Regions from separate parts of the Homo sapiens genome. Here regions 2 and 3 are each linked to region 1. Evidence: fine-mapped expression QTL. A gene starts in region 1. Each other region holds a variant in brackets. All regions are shown on one strand. Distances are from middle to middle.

The links. PIP is the estimated chance that this variant, and not a neighbour inherited with it, causes the effect. A credible set is the group of variants that fine-mapping cannot tell apart.
Region 2: its variant is the best candidate, but not a certain one, in a credible set for the expression of ATP2C1 in lung (TOPMed, PIP 0.63).
Region 3: its variant is the best candidate, but not a certain one, in a credible set for the expression of ATP2C1 in whole blood (INTERVAL, PIP 0.58).

Annotation. Positions count from the first base shown.
Region 1 is chr3:130,888,265-130,898,389 of GRCh38, reverse strand. It overlaps ATP2C1 (ATPase secretory pathway Ca2+ transporting 1), which reads right to left and starts at 4,306. Exons shown (of 28, transcript NM_001378687.1): 1 at 4,053-4,306; 2 at 3,615-3,800. The coding sequence starts at 3,620. LOC107986023 (a long non-coding RNA gene) reads left to right here and starts at 4,469. Exons shown (of 3, transcript XR_001740492.2): 1 at 4,469-5,534. RefSeq lists a silencer at 4,052-4,441 and an enhancer at 4,532-4,751.
Region 2 is chr3:131,218,624-131,228,748 of GRCh38, reverse strand. NEK11 (NIMA related kinase 11) reads right to left here. Exons shown (of 18, transcript NM_024800.5): 15 at 61-221. Among named protein-coding and RNA genes, the nearest start is that of NUDT16-DT, 160 kb to the left of the region's middle. The variant G/A (reference allele first, on the strand shown) is at 4,932.
Region 3 is chr3:130,850,797-130,860,921 of GRCh38, reverse strand. All of the region lies in intron 1 of LOC107986023 (a long non-coding RNA gene), which reads left to right. It also overlaps a transcript of ATP2C1 not described here. Among named protein-coding and RNA genes, the nearest start is that of ATP2C1, 38 kb to the left of the region's middle. The variant A/G (reference allele first, on the strand shown) is at 5,979.

The DNA of each region.
Region 1 (10,125 bases):
TTCTCCAACTATAGTAATGCAATTTTTTCTTGAGACATTCCTAGCTGATTAACAATTTGAAATTGAATTAAGAAACTGCTTTTAAAAGTAAAGTGTAAATACAACCATTTTCAAACAAAAAAGATTGGGGCATTGTTCTCTACACCTATTAGCTCTGTCTATAATCTTAAATTAACCATGTCCTGAAATCCTGAAGACTATTACATTTCTATCCACTAGTCAAACATTTAAGGCTATATTAAAGTTTCATGTGTATTAAAGTCACACTGAATTTTCTATGGGAAAGGCCAAATTTATTCCAAAAAATAAATCCATTACTAGAAAGGAAAACCTATGTGCAAGCTTCTCCAGCTAGACATATCTTTTCTAGTAAGCTATCACTTTAAACATGCAATTAACTTTTAAAAATCAGGTAAGAGCTGTTTACTTGTGCATCTCAAGATGCCTAAGCGGGATCTGTTTAGATTTGTGATAAACATGTAAAAACAAATTCCAAAGGATCTGGATAAAATCCTAACTCACGACTGAATGTTAAGTAGTCCAAAAATTCCAGGAAATTAACATTTTAAACGTTCCTAGTGACAAGCAGAAAGTGTTCATGAAACATCCTGGAGTCTACAGCTAAAAATTGGTCAAGCTTTGCTGAGAAAGTTTAAATGGGCCCTAGGAAAAAAGTCCAGAAGAATCTAAACCGAAGTGCCAAAGAAAATACCACCATTGCTGAAGGAACCAACACATGGATGAAACCATTTCCTCCCCACACCACTGTAAGCTACCTAAGAAACCTTCATGCTGATGCTCTAGGGAAACACTATCAATTCTACACTGTTCACACCCACAAATGTAACTACCTGCATACCTACTGGAGGATACTCTTACTAGGGAACAGCAGCATCACTCAATTCATCCAAGTTAACTGTATGTCAAACATTGCTCTGGCGGCTTCATTTATTACTCACATCAACTTTGCAAGAGGGCATTATCTCATTTACAGATGAGATAACTTAGAGGCTGAGAAAGCTTAGAAGCCTAGTAACTTGTCAGATTTTTCAGGAGAGGAAAACATTACTTGTCGGGCTTCAAATCCAAACCTGTCTCTTTCTGTACTGGACCCTGGCTTCTTGGTAGAGCCCTAACTTTTTCTGTAGGCTTAAAAGCACTAATGCCATAGAAAATTCCTTACCTAACTCCACTTATCCCTCAACTAACAATGACAACTTCATTTTGAGCATTTGGCTACTACTGTTCCCCCTTCCAACATTTAACTGTCATGACAATATTAATGCCAGGTGGCCTATTAGTATGTATCAAACATTCAGCTAGGCAATTTATAATTAACATTTACCGAGCACTTACTATGTGCCAGATACTGTTTGAATGTTTACAACAACCTCATAAGGTAGGTTCTATCATTATCTTTATTTTATGAAGAAACGGAAGCACAGAAAACTTTAATATGCACAAAGCCAAATGGTAAGCGACGAATCCAGCATTCAAATCAGTCTGCATGGTTCCACCACAACTCAAGCTCTTAAACGTTATCATTCCTACCTCACAAGAGAATTTATACAGGGTTTCTCATTTAATCCTCTCAATTCTGTGAGTTAAAGATTATCAATCCCAATTTATAGATGAAGAAATACAGGCTCAGAAAGGTGACGTAATTTACTTAAAATCACACAGCTTTAAGTGGTTCAAGACAAGTTAGTCAAGACTTGAATCCATTTTTGTTTCACACCTCCAAATTGTTAATACTACACTATATCAAAGAAGGATGAAAACTACAAAAAGGCAAGTGAACAATAAAAAGGCACAGGTATCAATCTATGTAGTTTAATATGGTCAGTCACTTTTGAAAATTTCTAGGCTATATACAGGCTCTTCTTCAAACTGTTTATATATAAAAAAAAATGTGACGATAGGGAGAAACTGACAAAAATGGTCTCTTGATGGTCAAGAATAACGGGACAGAAAACCCCACACGTTTTTAAGAACTGTATAATCTTTTACTATGAAACCACAAAATTCATATTTGGCCACAAAATACAGAGACAGACACAAGTAGGCACCATTCTCCTATCTCACAACCACCCCCTCCCACCTCAGTAGATAATGAGAATCGGCTTTATTACTCATGCTCTTCCTCCTGAGAGATCAAGAAACAAAAGCAACATGAAAGAATCCACCTACTTTAGGCTACCCTCTTAAATCTGGTACCATTCTGAAAACAAGCTCATAAACATACATTAAATGTTAGAAGTTATTTAAGATGTTTCTACCAAGAAACAAGTATATGAATGCATTTAACATTCTTTGTCTCATGTGCAGAATGGATTTGCCTTTCTTAAATCAATAAACTTAAAAGAGAGGAAAAAGGCTCAGAAAAGTGACTTTCCTTATCACCAAAAACATCACTGCTTTCAAATGTTTCTCAAGACCCAATTAGACAGTATAACTCCTCTGCAGTTATACACTTTAGTATTTCAGAAAATGTCTTCCGCCAATTATCCATCCAGAGTAAAATTTGTCAATATAATCATGCCTCTCATCATATTCCCTACATAGCCCAGAGGTCTCAGAGAGCAAAACACATTACTGCATCTATAAGAAACACCCATTTCAAAATTACTAGTCCTAGTCAGACAATCAAGCTTACATTCTCAACAATGGAAAAACAAATTAGAAGCAGCCAGCAAGACTGCAGCTCCTTTATACCAGACACATATTTTTTAAAACAAATTATACCAGAGGAAAAAACTGTCATTTGTTAAGTATCTTTTATAGTATTTTGCAGCCCGGTTAAAGGCAGAAGAAAAAAAAATGATCACGCACAAGTCAGAAGTCAGTCCAAAGAATAAGTGTTGTTTCAGGAGGGGGAAAAAAAATCACTTATTCACAGTTGTTCAACAATTTTAAAAATAATCAGTGCTGTGTAGGAAAAGCATTAAATATTTTAACGAGGCCAAAGGGATCATGTAACATGTGAATGACGATCTAATGTGTCCAAAGTGTACAGTGAACAAACAGGTTCCGCTGTCAGCCTCCTAAATGATGTTTTGAAATAGGGTGGAACTTTAAGAAAAGCACTCATCTCATAACATTTCATTAAATTCACTGGGTTTTTTTTGTGAATTGAAAAATAATGAGTTTTTTCCCCAATGCTAGACATAATAAAACATGGCTTGCTTTCTTATAAATGAATCCTGCCACACACCACATCGAGGCTTGAAACGCCAATATACAGAGATGCAGCCCCATCCCCTTGTCCCCCATTTCCACTTCCCCTCGAGTAATTCCTTTCAAATAGCTATTTAAACATGCACAGACGCTATCTGAAATGAAAACTTCCCTCTCATTCCCTAAGCTGAAGAGAGCAGGAATTCCTCAAGAAAGCTGAATCAAGCTCAGTCACCCACAGAACCTCAATCTCTCAAATGCCCCATGTTACCAAAATAAAAGCTGGATACCCTAAGTAAGCAAATCCTTGGACACTTCACATACACAGTAAATAAATAAGCTCACGAAAATAAAAAGGTGGAAAAACAAAGACAACTTAAAAGCAAACCACCACACCCTCAACTCCGCGTTGCAACCGGTCGGCCAGGGGCCTTTACCTTCATTTTCCATCGAAACTGCACTCGGGTTGATGGCTACAAAGTCTTTAGTGTCAGCCACGGCCACACTGGGAATAGAGAGGAGAGGAGGAGGACAAGGAAGAGAAGCCCCCGGAATCCCAGGCTGTCACCCCCGCTCCCGGCCACGCGTCCCACGGCTGCTCCCACCACCCCTAGCAGCAGCATCTGCAAGAGAAACCAGGAGAAGCGGCGCTGACGAGAGGCTGAGGAAGGAGTTCCCCGCCCAGCCACTATCTCGGGAGCCCCCCTCCCCAAGATCCCGCACCCGCCCCGTCGTGTGCCCGCAACGTCCCCAGCTCACGCCAGCGGGGCGGCGCCCTAGAGATGCCCCCCCATCCAGGGGATACCCGAACCTCCCCTTCCTTCAGAACCTGGAAGTTTCTAGAAATGGGGGCAGGAGGTAATACTGGTACCCACCCAAAGCCCCGGACAGCCCTCCTCCAGGCTGCGGGGTCTCAGCCGCGGGGCTCGCGGGGGCGCCCCGCGCGCCTCGGGAGAAGAGGAGCTGCTCGCGGGGCAGCGGTGCGAGGCGGGAGCCTGCTCCCGGCGTGAGAAGAAGCGAGCGGGAGGGAGGAAGGGAGGGAGAGAGGGCGGGCGGGGAGGGGAGAGAAGAGGAGGTGAGGGGACCCGTCACGGTCCGCCGGGCCGGCTCCGCGAGGCCGTGCTGGTCTGCTCCCGCCTCCGACTCCTGCGCTCCGCCCCTCCCCGCCGCCGGCCGCCCAGTCGCGCCCCGCACTCCTGGGCCAGCCGCGAACCCAGCTTTGTCACTATTACTTCCGCTGAGAGAGGTGCGCGCAGGCGCATTCGTGTTCACGGGCTGGGAAGGCGGAAGTGAAGTGAAGGCCGAGACTTCGGCCCGGAATGGACAATGTTTGGGTTTGGATCCGTCCGGTAGGAGGTCGCTCGGGGTTGGTGGCCCGCCTTGTTCTTGCTGGCGCCTCCCTTACCCCAGGGACGGTGTCCGCCCGTTTATATGCACCCCCTGAACGCGAGGGTCGGAGATTCGCCCACGCCCCGTGTCGGCCACGCATTCCCGTGGGGCGGCCGCGGGGTCGGCCCAAGCTGAGAGTCATGGCCGCTGTCCCCGAGGCGTTTAAGCGCTCTCTACAAAGTCTGTAGGGGAAGCTGCTCCCGTCGGGGTGGCAGTCACAATCTCAGCAGGCAACGTTGAGGCCCACGGAAGGAAGGGGCGAGGTGTCCATGCTCCTGCCAGGGACTGGAGCACCGTGAGCAGCCTCCCGAGTCTCGCACTCTCACTTGCAAAACCCTGCACTGACTGCTTGGTTCTTGGGGGAGCCGGTAATCGCGGGGCGACTTCCCAAAATTCTTTAAGGGGTGTGCTTAGTTACCATGTGTAATGAGAGAGCAAGGTTCAGCCTCAGAGAGCTCCAGGGAGAGCTAATCTTTTTCATTCGTTTGTGGTATATGGAACTGGGGAGAGGCTGGAACAGCAATTAGAAACCAGTCGTACAGCTGTCGAAGCCAATGAACGAGCACTTCTTTTAGCAGCTGTACCTTTGTCCAGTGTCAATGCCTTTTCACACGTAAACATTTCACTTGCTCGGCATCTTACCCAGACCCCTAATAAGTGCTTTTTAATGAACGATTGGTTTTAATAAACCGTGGTGAGCCAGACATATAATGTTGAACAGAAGTCCTCTCACACCCATAACCACTAGAGGGCAGGGCTTCACCTACTGAGTTGGTGATCATCCTACAGAGAACTCAAAAGAAAATTTCCGTATATGCTAGATGTGTTTTTCTCCATCAACACTTAGACACTTTACAAATTTGCTTTTTATCTCAGGTCCTGTAACATATCGCAGTGTGCTCTCTAACCACACGTTCAACATCAGAATTAACGGACGGGGTTGCCTGTGTTTCTATATTTGTTCCCAAGTAAGTGGTACTAGACTAGGATTGAAAATTCTGGACAGCTTTCTAGATTTACCTTTCTTTTAAGAAATATTGAACTTTTATTCAGCGAGGTCACTTTTAAAGATGAACCCATAAAAATCACTATCAAGTAGATTTCTAGTCTTAACGAGTTAACTATGATCCACCTCTGGCATGCATGGTCAGTGATTTTTGTCTGCACAATGACGGAGCCAAATTAACGGACGGGGTTGCCTGTGCTTCTATATTTGTTCCCAAGTAAGTGGTACTAGACTAGGATCGAAAATTCTGGACGGTTTTTAGATTTACCTTTCTTTTAAGAAATATTGAACTTTTATTCAGCGAGGTCACTTTTAAAGATGAACCCATAAAAATATCAAGTAGATTTCTAGTCTTAGGAGTTACTATTTATGATCCACCTCTGGCATGCATGGTCAGTGATTTTTGTCTACACAATGACATAGCCTGTGATTTGTACAATGATTGTGATCTCTCGTAATCAATTTGTAACAGTTATTACTGTACATATTCGACCTTGAAACAGCATTATATTAAAAACAAAAGCACCTAAGGTAGGAAATTACACAATATAAATACTTTGATATTAACATATGCATTTACAAAATAGAGGGTAACTGTACAGAATTTGGTATTGGGTCACTTTAGCTGAAACATTTTTCTAAAGCAACTTTTCAGAACTATCTGTTGTATTAATATACTGCAATACTCTAGCATTAACACTGAATCTATAACTCCTCCAAAAGATTTATAGCTCCATGGTTTATTCCTAAAATGACTTAAACTGAAATTTTACTTTTGGTCCCCTAAATTATGAAAATCATTGTTCCTATTACTAAGCCAAAAAAGAAACTGGTAAGATCAAGATCAACTTTACCAAGAAGAATTGACCAATTAGTCATTTTATATAAAAAACTTAAGCATCTGGAAATTTTGGTGTCTGAGGGGGTTCTGGAACCGATCCCCTGTGGACAATGAGGGATGACTATATACATATATATGTCATACACACACATATGTATATGTATAGACAAACATATACACATATATATGTATATTCATACACCCACATATACATACACACTAGCCTTCTTTCAAAAGATTTTTGTAAGAATCTCATAAAGTAAGTGAACACAGGTTGCAAATTATAAGCACTATAGAAGTATAAGATTATTATAGAGAGAATCAAGGAAATCCCTGGAGTGTTAGCTAGCTACAATGGGATTGATGGCAATGAAACATATTATTTCCAAGTTTCAGCTTATTGCTTCCATAGAAATCAAAGCTCTAAAAATTCTTTCTACTCTCCTTTTGTCCTGAATATTTAACCTACAAAATTAAATGCATCTGATGCAAAAAGTGGTCACGTGCAAGAAAGGGAAATTTGTCAGGCTTTTCCGCTTGGGGGAAATATTACAAATGGGAAAGATTGAAGAAGAATGGTCATGACATTCTAATTTTCTTTATACTGTGCTTTATTCCACAAAGGGTGTGCGGTATCTTGTTTTTAATATCAAATTTGATAGCTGCATTTTTATAAACCTGGATGGTACAAGAATATGTGGTTCTTTAGGGATTTAAAAATTAAAACTTGGAAAAAATTATTTTAAAATCTTTCCTCAATTAATTAATGTCTTCTTTTAAAGGCTGTTTTAATGTTGTTTAAAGTACCAGAGGTTAATAGTTAAGAAATTTCACCTAGCTGCTAGAAAAGAAATTGTAATTTTATTTTAAGTTGAACATTTTATTTATTTACTTACTAACTTAAGAGACAGAGTCTCTGTCGCTGAGGCTGGAGTGCAATGATGCCATCATAGCACACTGCAGTCTTGAACTCCTAGGCTCAAGAGATCCTCTTGCCTCGGCCTACCAATGTGCTTGGGATTAGAGGCATGAACCACCATGCCTGGCAAAGTTGGACACGTTAAAAACATATAAAGATGCATCACTTTATTTTTATAAGCTAACCTACTCCAACAGAACAACAGAAGTATTTTTCTTCTTATAAGATAAAGGACATGCTAAATGTCAAGTTTAGAAAACTATAGTTTTATTGCCAAGAGTGTTGTACGAAATCAGTTCCTAACAAACATCTACCAGAATTGCTATAAATCTGCCTAGTTCCATGTTTTGGCAGTGCTGGAAGATTAAAAGTTGGAAGCAAGAATAAAAATTGAAGGACTCATATGAGCTACTTGTGTTTGGTTGGTTTTAATAGCACCCAGATCCAGATCCCCAAGTACTCTACAAATATTTTATCACTCACAAAATTCCATAGCCTCTTTCACACTTGCTAGCATTTTAAACATGAAATATTTGATGAAACTGAGATGAAATGAGAGAACTTATACTCTTAATTTTTATTGTTAAAGAAGTTTATTTCAAGTATGACATAGTCTCTCCATTCATTGGCTCAGATTCTGAGCCAGTGGTAATATTTGGGATCTTATATACTACCAGTCTTCTGGATTAGACATGAGTGTCGATGGGATGCATGTGAAAATAAGAAAGAGGTAAGAGCAAAGTGAGTGTGAGTCCCATGACCCAAGAGTACCATGACCAATGAACTTCATCATTTCCATGGAAAACAGACATACAATATTCCAAATTATATAAACTACAGGATTTGTTTTGAGATACAAAGGTATCCATTTAAATGATAATATTCCACCTAGTTTCCAAACTAGCATAATTCACCTCTGGCCCCAAAACATTTGACAGCAGTAAATATGTAATAAAGACCTATTAAATAAATGGATAGCCTGAAAAATGTTTATCATAAATATTTTTTGTTGAATGAATAACAATCTACTTGTTTCCTATGATCAAACTAAAATCCAAGCTCCTACTTTCCTGTAAAACCAAGAGGACTTAAGGGATTTTTAAGAAGTTTAAGGGTTTCTGGTGCATCTCACACCTGTAATCCCAACATTTTGGGAGGCTGAGGCAGGAAAATTGTGTGAGCCCAGGAGTTCAAGACCAGGCTTGACCACATAGTGAGATCCTGTCTTTACAGAAAATAAAAGCATTAGCTGGGTGCAGTGGCACACACCTGTGGTCCCTGATACTCAGGCAGCTGGGGTGGGAAGATTGCTTAAGCCCAGGAGGTCAAAGCTGCAGTGAGCTGTAATCATGCCACTGCACTCCAGCCTGGGGGACAGAGCAAGAAACTGTCTCAAAAAAAAAAAAAAAAAAAAAAAAAGTTTAAAGAATAAACCTACATCTCCAAAAACCACAAAGGGGTTAACTAGGACAACATTATCTGAATGGGAATAAGTCCTAATTGTTGTAAGAAATGCTCGATATTGAGCACTGCCCAGAGCAGATAAAATTGCACACCCAGATTTTGAGCCCAGGTAACCATTTGAAATTAAAAGATAACAGTGTTGAGGTGCTTGTTTCCATGCATTTGAGAAATTTTAGCTGAGCCTGTGCTTTTGATTTTGATGGCATGAATATTAATGCCTGACAAAAAGCATTGTACACTAGGTCCTCGAATAAGGTCATTTTGTTCAACATCATTTCATTAAATGATGAGAAAAAAACATCAATTACTGGTAGGGCCACTGTATTGAGTTTGCACATTCTCCCTGTGTCTACATGGGTTTTCTCCAGGTATTCTGGTTTCCTCTCATATCCCAAAGTTGTGCATGTTAGGTTAATTGGCGTGTCTAAATTGTCCCAGTGTGAGTGAGTGTGTGTACATGTGTACCCTGCAATAGAATGGCATCCTGTCCAGGGTTGATTCCTCCCTTGAGTGCTGAGCCGCTGGATAGGCTCCAGCCACCTACAACCCGGAACTGGAATAATTGGGTAAATAATTACCTTATTTGTTTTATTAATCTTTCTTAAATGTATGTATAACTCACATTTATTTCAGTGTTTAATATTCGAAGTGTTTTGGAGAGCAGAGCAAGATGGCGGAATAGAAGCCTGTACCATTGATAACCCCCGACAGGAACAACACATTTTAACAAATATCTGCATACTGGAAAGTTTAACAACTAACTGCATACCATCACAAGAACCAAAAATCAGAGCAATCGGAGTACCTGGTTTTATATTCATATCACTGAAAGAATCATTGAAGAGAGTAGGAGAGACAGTCTTGAATCACAGACACCACCCCTTCCCCATAACCTAGCAGCAGCCCTGCTACACAGAGAGTATATGCACTTGGGGGAGGGAGAGTGCAGTGGCTAGTGGTCTTTCTATTGAACTCAGTGCTGCCATGTCACAGTGGAGAGCAAAGCCATGCTGGGCTCAGCCAGCACTCATGCATGAAGGGAACATTTGGACCAGACCTAGCCAGAGGGGAATGGACCATCCCAATTGTCAGAACTTGAGTTTTTTGGCAAGCCTCACCACCATAGGCCAAAGTGCTCTGGGGTTCTAGGTAAACTTGAAAGTCTGTCTAGGACACAGGGATTGCAGTTCTTAGGCAACTTCTAGTGCTGGGCTGGGATGGGCTTAGAGCCACTGGACTAGGGTGGTACATGACCTGGGGAGACACTAGCCAGGGAATCTAAGGGAGTGCTTGTGCCATCCTTCCCCCAACCCCAGGCAGCACAGCTTG
Region 2 (10,125 bases), 330 kb before region 1:
GGGAGAGTCCAATCAGTACCTTGAACAGTTCCATGGCTTCCGACAGGGAGCATTACATACCTGTTGGTTTGTTCTGTAAGCAGGCTGGGATCCCTCATTCCTGATTTCTTTCTCTGGTCTTTCTAACGCTATTTCTTCTTCCTCCTCATCACTCTCTTCACAATAGGAATCAAATGCATCAGCGTAGTACTCTTCAGCCACAAGTGGGTCTTCTGGGATCTCTGAAATAATGAACAAACAGTCAGATACTACCAGTTATTAAAATTATAATGAGGTAAGAATACTGTATCTTTTCACAGGGATGTATATTTTGCTTGCGTTGACAAAGCTTCCATGGAGTGTAGAGCTGAATCTCAGCTTCCTGGAAGTATTTGGTTGAATGTAATAAACACTCAGCAAAATAAAACCAGTAGAGGAAAGGAGGAACATTTCCATTAGCAACTACCGTTTGAAGGTAAGAAAAAAATCATTAAATAAGAATAAATAATATGCTTTAACATTTTGACATTTGGAGGCATGAATCCTTATTAAAAATGAGGAAATTTAGGGGCAAAGGTAGGACAAGATGTCCTGGCTGAAGGGTCCTATTACACAACACACATAAAGTTTTTAGCATAGGAAGTTGGAGCAAAACTACCACAGCATTTTTCCTAGATATTTCTTTTTTTTTAAATGTTACTGGTAGGACCAAACAAGATGAATAGGATATATAGCAGCATCATTTTGGCAAGCTGGGAAAAACACAATTCTTTTCTAACAGGTAATGATGGCTTTTGAGATGGAGTTCACTCTGGTGGGTCCTACTTACTCAACCTTACATTCAGCACTTATTTTAAAAAAGAATACCCACCTAAGCTGATGACAATAAGCATCTACCCAAGTTACTTGATGCAACATTGTTAGTAACTAGAATAAAGTTGGTGTTTATAACAATCTTCAGTGAAGAAAGGCCATGAATGGATCACAAGAAAGCATAACAATATAATTTACTAATGGGGGGCTAGAAATAAAGAACTACCCAAACAACTACCCTTGGGCTGGGGGAGGAGAAAATTAGAATACTCAGCTGCAGCAAAACAATGGGCATTTTAGACTTTGCACCATACTCAGACTTAAAATTAAAATTTTTCTTCCAAATTGTAACACATTATTTTTCAATCTATTGTTGCTATTTCTGGTCTAGTGGGAAAAATATGAAATTTGGGGTCAGAAAATCAAGGCTAGAATCTAGCTCTTCCACTTTTTAGATGAAAATTTGTGCAAGAGACTTAAACTCACAGAGCTCCAATTTCTGTGATAAAATTAACATAAGTGTAATCTAGTAGAGTGGCTGCTGAGATTGAGTAATAGAATTCTCATGAAAGCATCGGTATGCAGGGAAGTTTCATACAAATGTTCACTCAATTTCCAAGTCTGTACAAATGGGCTTTTCATTAAATGAGTCCAGAATCCTTTGAAAGTAAGATACTTAATGGATGTAGAATTCCCTGGAAATAGAAGATGTTAAAATGTGTTTGTTATCTATGGTTTCCCACTAAAACATAAAAGGCTGCTGTACAGTAGAATAAAAATTAGTCAGCTCAAAAGACAAAAATTACATATATTCAAAATTGCCTTTGCCAGTTCCTTAGAAAGCAGTGTACTAGGGATCTCATACCTTCTCTCAGCAATTTCAACACAGCGTATTTTTTTTTTTCACATCAGTTCAGATCACTGATTTTCAGCTGAGCAACAGATGAGATAGAATACTGTTATGGAGAAGCCATAGTTTTTATTATTTTTATTATTTATATTGAAATAATATATATTATTTTTATTAAACGTGGCTTCTAGTCATTATATCAAGAAGACACCTGCACGTGTCTGTATGTACACATATATATATAACATACCTATACACATATGTACATGCATATAGAACTTCAATACCTTTTGCATACAAGTGGTTTTTGGTTACATGGGTGACTTTTGTAGTGGTGAAGTCTGAGATTTTAGTGCACCCTCACCGAGTAGTATACACTGTACCCAATATGTAGTCTTTTATCCCTTACCTCCCTCCCACCCTCCTCCCTTCTGAGTCTCCAAAGTCCATTATCCCACTCTGCATGCCTCTGTGTACCCATAGCTTAGCTCCCACTTATAAGTGAGAACATATGGTATTTGGTTTTCCATTCCTGAGTTACTTCACTTAGAATAATGGCCTCCAGCTCCATCCAGGTTGCTGCAAAAGACAGTATTTCATTCTTTTTTTAATGGCTGAGTAGTATTGCATGGTGTATATATGCCACATTTTCTTTATCCACTCATCAGTGATGGGCAGTTATGTTGGTTCCATATCCTTGCAATTGTGAATTGTGTTGTGATAAACATAAACGTGCAGGTGTCTTTTTGCTGTAATGACTAGAAGCCATGTTAATAAAGATCTTCATTTTACTTACACTGAGAACGACAAGAGAATCACAGCATGAGAAGTGTATGAAAACTAAAATCTCCTGAGAGATCTCCAGTTCTGCCATCAAGTAGGGACATGTGCTTGCTGAGTGGAATGAAAGACAGAACCATATGATGTCTTCCTTCTCTTGCCCACCCTCAACTCTCCCTGAATCTCTGTGTCTCTTTCTCTGAGTTGTCCATTCTCCCTCTTTCCCCACTCTTTTCTACTTCCTCTCCCTCTCGAGTCTCTTTGTCCCTTTGACAGTTATTCATTCTCTCACTCATTCATATTTTTCCCTCTTGCTCTCCCATTTTTTCTTTATCTTCATTCCTCCTTGTCCACTCCCTTGGCTTTCAAACTACGACATGGTAAGAAATATCATTTACATTGTTGCCCAGTGCACAGAAATGTGCTTATATATGTATGTTTATAAATATCTTTATAGTCGAAACAAAAGTTTCATACACCAAGACCTATTTACCCAAACTACATATGACACACTCTGGTGTTTTTCATCCTGTTCAATTATTTTTTTAATGCTGGTTGCAACTCACTAAACTGACCTCTCAACCTGCAGTTTGAAAAACACCCCAACCTAGCTAGAGAGGCCAACATTCAGAAACACTCCTTTAGAATGCTGGCTTTGGCATAAAAACAAAATCTGCATTTAAATCAAGCCTCTAGCAATAGCTCTGTAACACTGTGTTATTTAAGCTTTCTGCACTTCAGTTTTCTCATCTATAAAATAAAGATGATAATATTCATCTCATGGAATTGTTGTGAACATTACATAGTATAATGGATGCAAAGTATGTATCAAATAAGGCAAACACTCAGTAGTTTTTCCTGTAATACCCAACACCAGGAAGAAATAAGTCATGCATCACTTAACAACGAGGATATGTTCTGAGGAATATGTCATTCAGGTGATTTCATCATTGTGTGAACATCATAGAGTGTACTTATTACAAACCTCGATGGTATAACCTACTACACATCTATGTTTATGTGGTATAGCCTATTGCTCCTAGGCTACAACCCTGTACAGCATGTTACTACACTGAATACTGTAGACAATTGTAATACAGTGGTAAGTACTTGTGTATCTTAACATTAAAAATGTACAGTAAAAATACAGTATAAAAGATTTTTTAAATGGCACATCTGTACAGGGCTGTTACCATGAATGGAGCACGCAGGACTGGAAGTTGCTCTGGGTGAGTCAGTGAGTGAGTGGTGAGTGAATGCGAAGGCCTAGAACATTACTGTACGCTACTACAGACTTATAAACACTGGACACTTAGGCTACACTACATTTATAAAAAATGTTTTCCCTTCTTCAATAATAAATTAAGCAGCTTACTGTACATTTTTTAAACTTCTTGACTCTATTGTAATAACACTTAGCTTAAAACACAAACACATTGTACAGCTGTACGAAAATATTTTCTTTTTTTCATATCTCTCCTAACTAGGAGATAGTCAATAAGCATTTTTTCTTTCTTTTTCTTTTTCAACTATTTTGTTAAAAATGAAGACACAAACATACACATTAGTCTACTGCTACACAGCGTCAGGATCACTGATACCACTGTCTTCCACCTCCACATCTTGTCCCACTACAAGGTCTCTAGGGGCAGTAACACACACGGAGCCTCCATCTACTGTGATAACAGTGCCTTCTTCTGAAATACCTCCCGAAGGACCTGCCCAAGGCTGTTTTACAGTTAATTTTTTTTAATAAGTAGAAGGAGTACACTTTAGAAAAATGATAAAAAGTATAGCAAGCCAGGCATGGTGGCTCACTCCTATAATCCCAGCACTTTGGCAGGCCGAGGCAGGCAGATCACCAGAGGTCAGGAGTTCGAGAACAGCCTGGGCAACATGGAGAAACCCAATCTTTACCAAAAATACAAAAAATTAGCTGGGTGTGGTGGCGCACACCTGTGGTCCCGGCTAACTGGGAGGCTGAAGTGGGAGGATCACTTGAGCCTGGAAGGTGGAGGATGCAGTGAGCCGAGATCGTGCCACTGCACTCCAGACTGGGTAACAGAGTGAGACCACACCTCAAAAAAAAAAAGTATAGTAAATACATAAAGCAGTAACAGTCATTTGTCATCACTATACTGTACATAAATATATGCATTACACTTTTATATGACTGGCAGTGTAGTAGGTTTATTTACCCAGCATCACCACAAGTATGTGAGTGGCTATGTTGCTCTGCAATGTTATGATGGCTATGATAGCACTAGGTGTTGGGAATTTTTCAGCTTCATTAACTGGACCACCATTGTACATGCAGTCTGTCATTGACCAAAAGATTGTTATGCAGTGTATGACTGTATTAGACAATTGCAAATATATACTCAAGTTTAAAATATTTATTTATTTTAAATAGAATAATTTCTCAAAATCCATACTGAACCCAACTGAAATGGGCAATATGGAATCTCGCCTCTCTGTGGTTTCCTTTCTGTGGACTCCACAGGAACCC[G/A]CAGGCATTTCACCACACTGTTCACCTCCCACTGTCCTTCCTGTCCACTGATTCCGTCAAGGTTTCCTTCAAGCAGCTCAGAAGAAACCTCTGCAAGGGGGGTTGACAAATATGTTCTGTAAAGGGCTAGATAGTAAAACAATTTTAGGCTTTGCAGATTACGTGGTCTCTGTCACAACTACCCAACTCTGCCTTTGTAGTGTGAAAACAGACAATACATAAATAAATGAGTGTGGCTATGTCCCAATAAAACTTTATTTACAAACATAGGCAGTGGACCAAGTCATATCTCTACAACACAGACAAACCTTTCTTTTGTTAAAACACTAAGCTCCTCTTCCCAAAACGTAGCTCATTGTGTACAGACAGCCTTAGTCCCTTTCCCTCTCCTACCTAAGATTTCCTCCTAGAAGGGGAAGAAGGAAAGAAGTGGCCAGGGAAAAGTGCCATTCTGCCACCTAAGTTATGAAACAAACTGGAATGAATCTGTCTCCAGTATTTCTTAAGTAAGCACCACTAATTTGGTGCTGCCCACAAAAGGACTCATTTTCATTTTCAAAGGGAAAAGTCAAAAAAAACGTAAGTCCGTTCAAACTGTGTTTGTCACGCCTCATGTTTTTCATACATAGACCCAACTTGAAGCCTTCTTAGCTTAAGATTCCTTTCTCCTGTCACTAAGGGGAAAAGAGTCTGATAAACAGCTTTAATTTCCTTGCACCCTGAAGTCAGCCTCATAATGGGTATACTGGAGTGGCATTCCAGATCTTCTGTATGCCAGGCAAGCAGTAACAGAATGTGTTTATGAAGGAATCCAATAATGGCTGCACGAGTTTGGACACAGATGTTTCAAATCCATGCTGGAAAAACGAAGACATCACCCTGTTCCAGGAAAATGATGGCCTTTATCAGATCCTTCAATTAAGACCCAAATAAATGCCTTTCTCTAAGACTTGTGTGAGCATCAGGATCACCTGTGGGCTTGTTAAAACGGATCTCTGGGTCCCACCCCAAGACTTGCTGATTCAGCAGGTCTGGTGTGGTACCTGAGAATCTGCATTACTCACAAGTTCCCAGCTGATGCTGATGCTGCTGGTTTGGAGGCTGCCCTCTCAGAATCACTGCTCTAGAATGTGACTAGTTCAAATAAGAGTATACACTATAATAAAATCTAAAAGATTTTATACTATTTCTACATATTTCAACCTTTGTATGTTAAAGACAAAACATAAACGTAAGAAAAACTTTACCTTAGAAGAGCTCGAGTTACTGTGCTATTAGTTGTCTAAATTACTTAAAATCTCCATAGAGGTATAAGTAATTCAACTACTCCCATTTTGTTGATAGAAAAGAACAAAGCTAAGGGTGAGCAGCCCAAAGTTATAATCTTTATATTTGTGTGCATTTTACAGTTTAAAAAGCATGCTGATATACATTTGATACCACAAAAATTTGATACCATTTAATAGCACAAAGATACCATTTGATCTTTGCAACAACTCTTCAATGTAGACTAGAATGACATTTTTCTGCCCACTTTTCAGATAGGAAAAGTAAGGTTCAGACAAGCTAATGACCAACCGAAGGTCACACTGCTGCATCTGAATCCCCTTTCTTTCACTGAATAAGTCTATTTATGGTTAGTTAGAAATTTTCATCTTTGCTAGTAAAACCATTTCAGAAAGGTCATGATTATCTTTCTTGTAGCTCTGAAAGATATTAGACAACAAGGGATAGACTTTTGACTTACGAGATAGAAAAACTGAAGCTTAGTCATCCTGGTAAACCGTCTTAAGGGAGCTGGGAGAATCAGATTCAGCCTGAGCCTAGTTCTCACTACCATCTATCTCAGATGTGTCAAACTTGAGTGTGCCTCAGAATCAGCTGGAAGCCTTGTTAAAACAGATTCTTGCTCCCACACCCAGTGTTTCTGATTCAGTAGGTCTGGAATGGGGCTTGAGATTCTGCATTTCTAACTATGCCACTCGTCTGGAAACACACTTTGAGAACTATTGCTCTATCTTATAGAACCTTCGAGGAGAAAATGACATACAGATGCAACTGTTAAATGAAAAACTCCCTGTCACTTCATCTACTGCATTAGCTCTTTAAACTGCTAAAACGATCCAGATATACATTAACAATTTTTTTAAAAAAGAGTGTTTTCATAAAACAGGAACTTTGCCTGAAGAGAAAACCAAGTTTCCTCTAAAGGAACTTAGTTCCTTTTAGACATTTAGAAGATCTCAGCCTGTGGGCCCACCACCATCCCAGATGGTTTTAACCATTAGAATGCCTTAAGCAAATCCATGTGACAGGCTTCCCAGAATGGTTCTTAAAGGGTGGTCCCCAGAATAGCAAGAACAACATCACCTGGGCTCTTATTAAAAATAAAAATTTCCAAATTTGCCTATACCTCCAACCTACTGAATCAGAAACTGGGATGAAGGTCCAGCAATGTGTGGTTTGACAAGCTCTCCAGGTGATCCTGATGCACCCTTAAGTTTGAGAACCACTAATTCAGCACAATGACTGGCACTTTATGTCTGCTGAAATAAAAATCCCTTCTAATATTCCAGGTAGATGGTAAGCTCCAGGAGGGCAGAGGCCACACCCATCCTGCTTACCATGGTATCCCCAACACATGATTCAAAGCAGACACCCAAAACTTCTTGCTGAATAAATGAGTACATAAATCTCTAAGAGATAAGGACTTTCAAATTGCCACATAATATCATATACAAAGAATTAACTAATCCTTTGGGAGAGTAACGTGGAGAGGGGAAGCTGAGGAGAGGAAGGAGATACAGATGTTTTTCCTAAGACTCCCCCACCCCTTTCCTCTTTTTCACATACTTTGAACTTATATCTCAGATGTAGTCATACCTTCGAACTGCAAAAAATGTCTTCATCGTACTAAAACTTCCAGTTACATCCTGCAGGCCCACTCAGTCAAGTCCCAGAACTCAGTCAAGAGGACCCAGAGTGTGACAGCAAATGCTGTTAGGCTGGAGCTTTCTCCAGGTGCCCTAGAGTCTGCCCCGGACACCCTGCCTCTCTCTGCATATCTAATCATAGTTCAGCATTAAAGTTTGCGGAGCTGGCTGTCATGGGGCAGACAGAGGGTGGGTGGTGGGAGCCCTCAGCAGAAGGCAGCTACCAAAAGATGTCCATCTCTATTTGTCCTTTCTTTTCTAGTTTTCTGAAGAGGGTAATGGCTTTATTACACCAAGCCAGAAAATACTGAACAAGGCTATTATAAGGCTCTAATAAGAACAAACTGATTTATTCTTGTATCTCAATGTGGCCTCTATGAAGACCATGTTCATTCATTACAAATTGGGAGTGGCAGTGCTTAGAATGATTACAGTTATTATTTGTATTAACATGACAGCCATCAAAGCATTTCTTAATTTCCCAAAAATAACATTTGTGGGTGTGAAAAACTGCTCAAATTCATTTTTAATAAAAACATTAAAAATAAAAATATTATTTTCTCATATGTATAGGAAACCTATGATTAATATGCTACAACGTCCCCAAAACCATAAGATTTTTTTTTACCTTTTACATAAGGTAAAAGTCAATACTTTGAGAAGACACACAGACATAGGCATTGTGCTGAGTTGCCTCAATTTCCCCCAGAAGCTCCATTTTGTATAAGGTAAGCACAATTTAGATGAAAACAAAACAAAACAAAACAAACAAAAAACCAAAAAGAAATTGAAGTCAAAGTTAACTGGTGACATCTGCTGCTTCTGAGAAAAACTGCCTTGCAACAGAAGTGATGATACAAAGTAGTGACTAGGAGGACCACCTGTAGGGTCAGATGGCAATCAAATTCTGCCTCCGTTGCTTATTGGCTGTGTGACCTCAGGTGGGCTACTTCACTTCTCTGGGTCACGGTGTTCTCATTTGTAAGTGGGTGTAGTGGCTACTATCAATGCCCCACACAAATTCTCTTCCCAGACACACTCCAAAGTATAATTGGCACACCCTCGTCTGCTAGCTGCTGTGCATGTTGGCTGCTGTATTAAGTCAGCCAGAGCTGTAATGAGAAGATACCACAGATTGGGTGATTTAAACAATAGAAATTTATTTCCCAGAGTTCTGGAGGTTGGAGATTAAGGGGCCAGCAGGGTTGGATTCCTCTGAGGCCTTTCTCCTTGGCTTCCCTCTTGCTGCTTCTTCACAAGGTCATCCTCTGTGCATGCATACCCTGGTGTCCCTGTGTCCTAATCTCTTATTCCTCTTTTTTTTTTTTGTATACTTTAAGTTTGGGGATACATGTGCAGAACATGCAGGTTTGTTCCATGGATACACACGCGTCCTGATGGTTTGCTACACCCAGGTTTGCTGCACCCATCAACCCATCATCCACATTAGGTATTTCTCCTAATGCTGTCCCTCCCCTAGTCCCCCACCCCCTGACAGACCCCAGTGTGTGATGTTCCCCTCCCTGTGTCCATGTGTTCTCATTGTTCAACTCCCACTTATGAGTGAGAACATGCAGTGTTTGGTTTTCTGTTCTTGTGTTAGTTTGCTGAGAATGATGGTTTCTAGCTTCATCCATGTCCCTGCAAAGGATGTGAACTCATCCTTTTTTATGGCTGCATAGTATTCCATGTTATATATGTGCCACATTTTCTTTATCCAGTCTATCATTTTTGGGCATTTGGGTTGTTTCCAGGTCTTTGCTATTGTGAATAGTGCTGCAATAAACATACATGTGCATGTGTCTTTACAGTAGAATGATTTATAATCCTTTGGGTATATACCCAGTAATGGGATTGCTGGGTCAAATGGTATTTCTGGTTCTAGATCCTTGAGGAATCACCACACTGTCTTCCACAATGGTTGAACTAATTTACACTCCCACCAACAGTGTAAAAGCATTCCTATTTCTCCACATCCTCTCCAGCAACCCTATCAAAAAGTGGGCAAAGGATATGAACAGACTCTTCTCAAAAGAAGACATTTATGTGACCAACAAACATATGAAAAAAAGCTCATCATCACTGGTCATTAGAGAAACGCAAATCAAAACCACAATGAGATACCGTCTCATGCCAGTTAGAATGGCGATCATTGAAAAGCCTAATCTCCTCTTCTTATGAGGACACAGTCAGATTGGCTTAGAGCCCACCCTATCAGCCTCATTTTAATTTAACCACCTCTCTAAAAGCCATGTCTTCAA
Region 3 (10,125 bases), 37 kb after region 1:
AACTTTGCAAAAACCTGTATTTCCACCTATATTTCTCATTCTAAAAAAGATTTAAGGTATCTTCCAAACACAATAGTTATGATGGTTTTATTTTCAACTCCTTTATCCTCATAAATGAGAGAAAATCTGAGGTCAAGGAAAAAAGGAAGGAAAAAGTAAGAAAGGAAGGAGTGAAGGGAAGAAGGAGAGAAAGGAATCCTATCTATGGGAGGTATCTCTGTATGAGGGAATGAATTGGGCTTTGAGGTCAAACAGACAAACCTGGAGCTAAAATCTCAGAGTCATCATTTATGAGCTATGTAGCAAGTTACTTTACCTCTTGAAACCTCAGTTCTCTCACCCACAAAATGGGGATAATACCACTGACTTTGCAAGGTTATTATGAGAAATAAATTACAACATACGTAAAGCACCTTGTCAAGTGCCTGACACATATAAGGCATTTAATACAAATTTAAAATATTTTATTCTTGAATGCATAACCTAAGTTGTATCTCCTGAAATAGCCTTACTAATATGCCACCTTTAGGGTGAGTAGGAAAGAAATAATTCCAACATTTTTCCTGCTCTCTTCACAGCAAATCATGAGCAGTACAACATATGTGGGTATTTTCATTTTGTTTTCTGTCAAGACATGGGACTGTCTGTACAAGGTGCAAAAATATGTCATCTTTCATTCTGAACAAAAGCTAACGAAGTGTAGATGAACTGTCTAAAACATGGAATGGGATAGCAAATTTAGGAATCTTTAAAAAAGCTACACTGTCACAGAAAAGGGTTTTGCACTTTATGTTTGTTTTAATGAAAAATAATCATACATTAACTGTATTAGGGCAGTATCCAAATTATCTTTCTACTATCTCTTCACAGAGTATTTAAAAACCATCACTTTATGAGGAGGTGATTAAAGACCCTGTGGCCCCCACAATGTAGGAACAAAATATTTTAGGATGGATCTGTTAACTTTTAATTGGTAAAAACACTTATTTTCTAGATTTTTTTGATGCTTGTGATATTTGTCATTCGAATTTGTAATTTGTTGTGATTTCTAATTCAATTTCTTATTCTAATAATGTGCTTATTTCAAAGACAAAGCAACAGTTTTGATATTCATCCATTTACTGACTCCCATGTTTCAAAGGCACCAGAGCACAGTAGGTTAGAAAAATTTTAAAGTAAATGAAGGGATTAAAAATAGCTCAGAAATCAACCCAGGGTCCAGGTGTCTCTTAGGCTTGTCTGACACTTCACTGCTGTGATGCTGTGGACAAGAAGGATGGAACACCTTCAGAAGGGACCATAATAAACGGCAAGTTGCCAGCACTGACTGCATTGAAGAAAATCTGAAGGTAAAAGAGGCTTGATTGAAGAAGAAGAAAAAACAACAGTGGTTAAAGTGCCACAAAATAACCTGAAATTTCTTGGCACCCCCATTTATCAATGACTGCTATGTATATTTAGCTATTTATCGTTATACTGGAAGGGGTTAGATAACTTACAAACTATGGATTAGAAGTAGTTAAGTGGTCGATTAGGCTTAGAAAAGCTAGTCACAGGTACATAGCTCTTCACTTGAGGTCTTTGCTAGATGTAACTTTTGTTTTTTACCTTGACGGAGAATTACATGCTACTCTAATCACCAAAGGCATTTGATTCTGTCTTCTTTGGTCTTAGACTCTAGAGCAACATGCTAAGACTATGGAGTATTTACCACTAACCAAATAAAACGGGAATCCTAACTACACATCTATGCCCTCTGCCCTCTCCTTATTTCTAAAATATCTGAATTGTTCATCTCTCTATTGCCTATTATACTAGAATATCAGAGCTGGAACCTAATAAGTCATTCAGTCTTCTCTTTTATGATGCAGAAACCATTGCCACAACATCCCCTAAGGAGGGGTCACATACCCCCGCACTCTGCAGAAGATAATTCATTTCTTTACCTTTCATTTTTAGAAAGTTCATCTTTATTAGTATATCATAATCCCTCCCTGCAATTCTACCCATTGGTCATGGTTATTTCCTCCGGAACCTCCCAAATGCATACCTATCTTTCTTCATGAATTAGCCCTATGATTCTTAAGTCCAATACCTTAATCACTCAGCCATTCTGGTACTACAGCCCTAAGATTCTTACAAAACACATACACAAACACATATACAAAAGCAGTCATGTATCTTCCTCACAAAGTCTAACATCCAGGATTATTTCAAGTACTTCAGTCTCAAGATAGAATTCATTGCACCCCTACTCCCCACATTCACTAATTCCACAAACTTGTATTCAGTGCCTTCCATCTGTCAGGCACTTTGCTAGTCACCTGGGATACATCGGGAATCAAATAGCCCCCACAGAAAGATGCGAAATTGCTACTAGGATAAATACAGCAAAGGACAGTTACCAAGTGCCTTCAAAGGATGTAATGAAGCAAGGTGGAAAAGTCAGAAAAGGCTGCTCTAAAGGAGTTAATATTGAATTAAAATCTGAAGGAAGAGTAGATACTAACTGAGGGAGGATAGAAAGATGATTATTGGAACAGATGCCCTAGCCAGGAAGTAGCAGGGAAACTTGCATACATAGAAGAAGTGTGCTATAGCTAGGGTTCAGAGAACAGGGGGTGTGATGGTTAATATTGAGTGTCAACTTGATTGGATTGAAGGATGCAAAGTATTGTTCCTGGATGTGTCTATGAGGGTATTGCCAAAGGGGATTAACATTTGAGTCAGTGGACAGGGAGAGGCAGACCCACCCTCAATCTGGGTGGGCGCCATCTAATCAGCTGCCAGCACAGCTAGAATAAAGCAGGCAGAAGAAAGTGGCATGAGGAAACTGGCTGAGTCTTCCGGCCTTCATCTTTCTCCCATGCTGGATGCTTCCTGCACTGGAACATCGGACTCCAAGTTCTTCAGCTTTTGGACTCTTGGACTTAACACCAGTGATTTACCAGGGGCTCTCAGGCCTTTGGCTACAGACTGAAGGCTGCACAGTCAGCTTCCCTACTTTTGAGGTTTTGAGACTCAGACTGACTTCCTTGATCCTCAGCTTGCAAACGGCCTATTGTGGGATTTCACCTTGTGATCGTGTGACTCATGTGAGTCAATTCTCCTAATAAACTCCCCATCATATATGCAAATATCCTCTAGTTCTGTCCCTTTAGAGAACCCTAACTAACACAGAGGGGCAAGGTCAACATGCAGCAGGGAGAGAATCAGAGCTGGACCATACAAACCCCTCCACATTAGGGAGCTTTGTCTGTATCCAAAAAGCAAATGGAAGCCAGTGAAAGATCATAAGCATGGGGCTAGGTGGTAGTGTTCAGAAGACCTCTCTGACTGTAGTGTGGATTACTGGGAGACCAATGAGGAAGGTATTACAGTATTTCAGGCAAGAAGTAATGACGGTCTTTGGGCTAGGGTGGTGAAAGAGGGAAGTAGACCAACCGGTTTGGGAGTTTTTTAGGGGTAGAATTGAATGGAGTTGGTGATAGATTAAATATTGACTAAGGGAGCAGAAAGCACCAAAGATGAACCTAGGCCTCTGCCTAAATATCAGGATGGTGATATTTTCTTAGATAGTGAAGACATATTTGGGAGAGAGAAAGACCATGAGGGTGGTTGCTGACAACTAGAAAGCCATTTATCTTTATGCAAGCTATCAATGATAACTCTCAGGCATCTTGTAGATAATGTGAAAAACCATTGGTAGCTTTTTATTTTTTGGTAAATACATAGCTCATTTAAAAAATTTCTCCCTTCAGATAGAGGAAAAGGTTGTCATTACCATAATAAAATAGTTCCACTTTTAATGTCACATTTAATAATCAGAAATATTAAAGTTCAACTTCATGTTGTCACAATTTAACTGTCAATGTTACCTATATATAATTATACAAATTCCTCCACAGGAGTGGCATAGACTCTCTGTCCTCTATCTTAACCCATTTGTGCCCAAAGTTACAATTTTTTGAATTTTTGCAATCAGACCTTGGCGATGGCCTTGAGCAGTAGGATGTAAATAACTCCCACATGCTTATTGTTCCAATAATGGAACACTAGGTATAAATGAGATAACATTTATTAAGTTCTACAAGGAAAATCTTTTCCTCCTGTTTGTGAAGGACTGAAATTTTTTCTACTCAAGCACAAGCACAGGGGGCAAGGTCAACATGCAGCAGGGAGAGAATCAGAGCTGGACCACACAAACCCCTCCACATTAGGGAGCTTTGTCTGTATCCAAAAAGCAAATGGAAGCCAATGAAAGATCATAAGCATGGGGCTAAGGGGACATGGAGAAGCACTTTTAGTTTCCCCTCAAATATCATTTGAACTGACAATGGATAGCATTTCATGACTTTTCAAAAAGACTTTTTACAATGAATAGCTTTGGTATACACTCAAGATATAACCAACTTACTGACTTTATGGAGCTAAAAACATTTCTTAAATCAAGTTGTAGTGAAACGTCTATCATTTTACCTAGAGAATCAGAGCCTACATCAGCAACCTCAAATCCTTATTTAGCCTTGGAAATCTCAATATAGTTTTCTTTGGAATGGGGAGTTCTTAATTTTTATAGTATCATTCAGAGTAAGTATGAGAGCCAAAATGCAGAAATAAGTTTCTAAAATTCAAATTAAATTCAAATATTTATTTAACAGTGCAACTTTGAGGTTAGCATTCATTAAGAAACAGAGCAGCAAAGAAAAAAAATTCCAGTGATCCCGTTCCAACTAGAAACATTTTCTTAAGCCATTGAAAGGAAACTTTAGAACAGCTTCCAAAACAAAATTTGATTCTACTCTGTAATTAAAATGTAGCTACAGTACATGCCCCCTGGGCCCAAAGACCACTCTCCTCATTTTAAGCAGATTCACTGTTAAACAGGCAAGACTTGTCAGATCAGCCCTTGAATGGTATTTCTCAATCAGGAAAAAAAAAATCTCTGTTCAAGAGAGCGAGACATTGGTACAGGTCATCCCAAATTCTTGTAGATTAAATTAGCTGGCCTGTGTTTTCTGACTCCTTCTCGGCTTTCCTCCTGCAGGGACACATAGAAGTGGGGATTCAGACTGGCGAGGCTGCTGAAGGGCAGTGTAAGTTGAGGGACAAGGCAAAAAAGAGCAGGCTCTGCTCTGCCTCAGTCTCTCATCAAAACGTCTTATTTGTTATTGACAAGTTGACAAGTTGACCCTCAGGCATCACCTATTCTCTGGACCCATCCTGTAGAGTTTTTTTCTCATATGGCCTTTTTCTACATCTCTGCTTAGGGGTTCACTATACATAACAGAATGAGAGTCAAGCGAACCAAATTCTAATCCCAGCACTGACACAGATGAGCCATGCGAGCTTGGGCAAATCTCTTAGTTTGTGACACTAGTTTCACGTCTGTAAAATAAATTCCTCTACATGATTTCCCCTAGATCTCAACAGCCTCTGCTTACTAAGGATAATAACCCTATTTTCACCATCTCTTACCCTCACCTGCATAAAAACACCTCAGCCCCGTGAACCCTCCAACCCCACGGCTTCTCTAATACTTACAAAGTCCCCTTTTTCCATTCAATTACATTAATTTATCATCTATGTGCCAGATTTATGCTTAGCACTGGGACTAAACTAGCAAACAAAATAATATCATATTCCCCGCATTGAGCTAAAATAAGATTTTCATTTAAAGCAGAAAATTCTGACTGCTACAGGAGACACAGATTGTAGGATAACCAGAGTGAACATGGAGACACGAATTGGAAAACTATTGCAATAGTTCAAGTAAGAAAAGATGGTTGGCAGGATTAGAAGGGTGAAGATGGAGAATTCAATAACTATTTTAGAAGTCTTACTAAAGGATTAGGAAGGGGACGTAAGGGGGAGAAAGGGAAAAAGAGAGGTGCCAAGGTGACTCCCAGGTTTCTGGTTTGAGCTTTTGTGTTGATTGATGGAAAAACCTGGGGAGGAGCATGTTTGGAGCTTGTGGA[A/G]TTCTCTTTGGACACATTCAGTCTGCAACATTCACAAGACATTCAGATGGAGATATCAAGTAGATGATTGGATGCAAGGCTGAAGTGCTCTGGGTATAAACATTTGGGAGTTTTCAGCAAATAGGTGTTTGAAACCATGGGAATAGAAGAACTCACCCAAGGAGAGAGAGTAGACTGTCCCACATGAGCTGACAAACTGTCTTCTCATTGTTTGGTGCTAGCACCCATATGTAGCCCAGGGGTGCTGGCCCCTAAGAGCAGTACTCCCCAGGGGTTCATGAGGTATTTGGTTCTTGGCAGGCATCTCCAGGCTAAAGCTAGACTATAGTCAGCCCAGAAGTGGAGCAAATTCTCCCTTCCACACTCAGTGTCCCGCTTGATCACCTGAGCCACAGATCAGGCTGCTGAGTCTCTAGTACTTAGGGGAACATTGCCTGCAAGTCTCACTCATTCCTTATAAACTAGACACCAACATCTGAGCCAGGTGCTGGATGTTGCCCTCAGACCAAAATAAAATAACCGAAACCAAACACCCTTATGCGTGCGTTCAGCACACCTACTCAAACTCATCTGAGACTCCATTTAGGCTCAGGCTGCCCAACGTTCACCACCACCACTGTTACTACCACACCATTTGAATAATTCTGAGAGAAAGGTTAACAAATTTTCCCAACCTTCAGCATCTTCATCTCATTAATGCTGTTAATCTTCTACATATGTGGGGATTTGGCTTTGTGAAACACTTGCTGCAAGAGAATCTAGGGAAGCAAAGGATGAAATATTTGTTCTCAATTTGATAAATAACCTACCAACCTATTGATGGCTGTATCACAGGAATAACACTACCACCACCAGAAAAAGCTACCAAACAAATCAACCCTCATGTCAAATCTTCTTGTCTGTATGACACCAAGTGCGAGAAGAGCACTAGGAGAAGTTTTAAACAATAAAGCATATGTGAACAAGGTGAGTGTAACAATGATCATAATTTGGACCACAGAAAAGGGGTATGGGGAACTTCTAGGCCTAGTAAAAACAACAAAGGAGGTCTGTGTCACAGTCAATCCAGTGTGTACCCTCTGCCTGTTGTGTGGGTCACCTTTACACCAGTATCTGCCAGGCTCCAGTATGCCTCAGGGAACAAAGAACAAGATAACATCCAGTGTCATGTGTGCATGGGTGCACGAATATCGACATGAAATCACATGATTTACTACATAGAATGTAGTAAGGGCTGTGTCTGAAGCAAACAAAATATCTTGGAAAAGGAAGACTTCATTCTTCCCAGCAGCACTGGAGAAAGCTTTTCACTGAGCCCATTTAATCCAAGTATTGAAGGATGTACAGGAGACCTCCAGGAGGGCAAGTTGTAAGTAAAGGAGAGAATTCTAGGCTAGAGGGGGGAGTTCATTTAAATGTGCAAAAGTAAAGAAGCAGATGGTGTTCTGTTATAATATTCCCCAAGTATGTGGAAGTCAACATGGTTGGTACTTAGCAGCGCTAAGTGAGGTGGGAGAAGATTTTAAGTGGCATGCAGACACTACATTCAATAACACTGAATCATTTTGGATTGAAAAACATTATCTACCTTTTAATTCCTTTCCATCCTCACCCAGGAAACTTTCTCAGTTGGCTCCTAGGATGCTCTAACCTTTCTCTTAAAAGCTAATCTTCCTTATTAACAAATGAGCAGGTTTCAGGCTTGGAGGTTTTACAGGCAATAGTATCTACCTAGAATTTAATACTGTTTTGCTTTTATTAATTATTTTTACTTACGGCTAATGACAATGGTTTTCCATTTACAGTCATGATATGAACTTTTTTTCTAAATAAACTCTAATAATGTGATTTAAGTACAAATACAGAAAAATATTGAGGAATTAATCATACAGATGTGGTAAACAGTAAAAATTATGACAGTGCTATGTGAATATAGGAAATTTTAGAAATCTCTCAAGGAGAAAAGTTAGCAGGGTGATATTTTGCTATTACTAGATTGTTCAGGGATCAAGCGTGGTAAAATGAATAAAATTTAAAGCCATGAGATAGAAATTCACATCTTCCTCTGGTACTTTCTAGCTGCATGGGCAAGGGCTCTTAAGGGCTCTAAGTCTCAATCCCTTCACTTTTATATCAAGGATTAGTTATACAAGAATGTAAGGATTAGAGGCAACAAATATGCAGGTCATAAGATTGTAGACATTATTAACCTCCTTTATAACTTCCCAACAAGCTTTCAAGGTTAGTTATGATGAACTCTGACCTAATTTCTCTAATTCTGTGAGACATTAGGTCTGCAGAGCTGTAGTTGGCTTTAAAAAGAAATCAAATATATTATTTCTCTTAATTATTCAATTCACTTATATAAGAATTTAAGAACTCAGCATAATACTCACTCCCAGCTGTTCCTAGGTTGTCCCAAATGGTTGTACACTGGGGAAGGGACTACCCACCCTGTCCAAGTCAGAGGTTTTATGTTAAATTCTAATGGTCTTCTGAATGCATTTTGTAATACTTCTTCAATAAACTAAAAACAAAGAACCATAGAACTACACAAGCAATATAGCCACATCTCTGAAAACTTACAATACTGAGAAAAAAAAAATCACTCAATTCACATTCCACAGTTGTGTTCCCATCCTTTCAGCCACCTCTCTTCCTTCCATAATAAATGAGGCCTGAAGAAGCCCGTGAACATTAAAAGATTGGCAAACAAAAACTTATACAGCCCTACCACTTGGTTCTCTAGCTTTCTACATCAAAAGCAAGTGCAGGCTGAAACTTGGAAACCAAAAGTTGGTCTTTTAATGGTGACACCTTGCCTAAGTAAGATAAACTGGACCAGCCTAGCTCCCTTAGTGAACAGAGTCTGTTTGAATTTCTGGCCCTTGTAAAATTATTAAAGCAGGGCATACAAGCAGTTTCCTCTCAAACAGTAGCAATGATTTTTATTTTCCAAATTATGCATTGCCTTTTTGGGAAACCTGTCATGAGAGGATTTTCTGTCTGCTAAACCTATCTTGCATTTCCTGGAAGTGTTTTATTAAGTGGGTCATCTCATATCACAAAGGAGAAAAAAATACAGGACACTGGTGATATCTCCTGCATAGTTTTGCAGTTCTAGTTACAAGCACAATGCACAAGCAATTTATGACTGCTGGGTCTTTGGTATGGCTATACATTTGTCCTTCACATTTGTATACCACCGCCACACTTCTTCCTAAATGAATCACTAGATTTAAATGGATCAGATATTGCTACTTCTTCTAACAATTTGGTAAAATTCATAAAAATCATTTTTAGAAATGTCTTTTTTGGAGATCAAAGAAATGGAATGATATAAATCTCACACCATAAAAATGACTGCATGATTTTAAATGAGATGTGATCAGACATTTTAACAGTTTTAAAAATGCTTATATTCCCAAGTGATAGTGTCTCCTGCTGGAAATCATAGCTTTTGATTGGCTAAAAAGACTGAATATGGCAGTGCTCTACCTCCTACCTTTTACACACACAAAAATGACCAACTGCTTCTGAATGATCTTTATAGCTTGTTAATGATCTGTTTAAGGTTATTATAGTTTATAAAATGTTTTTTGTTTTGCAAATTCTGGCTATGTAAACATAACCATAAATACAAGAAGACAAGTGTACTTCTAGGGTCTGATACTTTCTTTGTTGAGATATTAATAGTGTCAAATTTTGTATCTGAGGCATTGGAAAATGATCAAAGAATTCAAAATTTAACTTTGATAGAGTAGCTCTTTAGAAGAAAGAAAGCATGTGGCTTCATTACAGAACTCCGCTTAATCTCAGGATCTGAATGTTCCAAGTTTAAATAAATTCTCACAAGCCTGCTTGCTTTCTGATTGCCAAGTCTGAACAGCCACAAGCAGGATCTGACCTGTACCTATAAACATGTAAACCAGCACAAATGAAATCACTAAGCGACGTAAAAGCAACAAGGAACAAGCACCCGTTCATTTTAAAGATAATATAAACAAAATGATACCTGTTCTTCGGCTCTTTGGTTTCTCAGCGTCGATAAATATCTCCTAATTGCATGGAGAGGATATTTTTTGAAATAAGAGAATCTAGATGGAGGCAACAGACTATCCATAGTGAGGAAAGCAAGAGGGTCCTT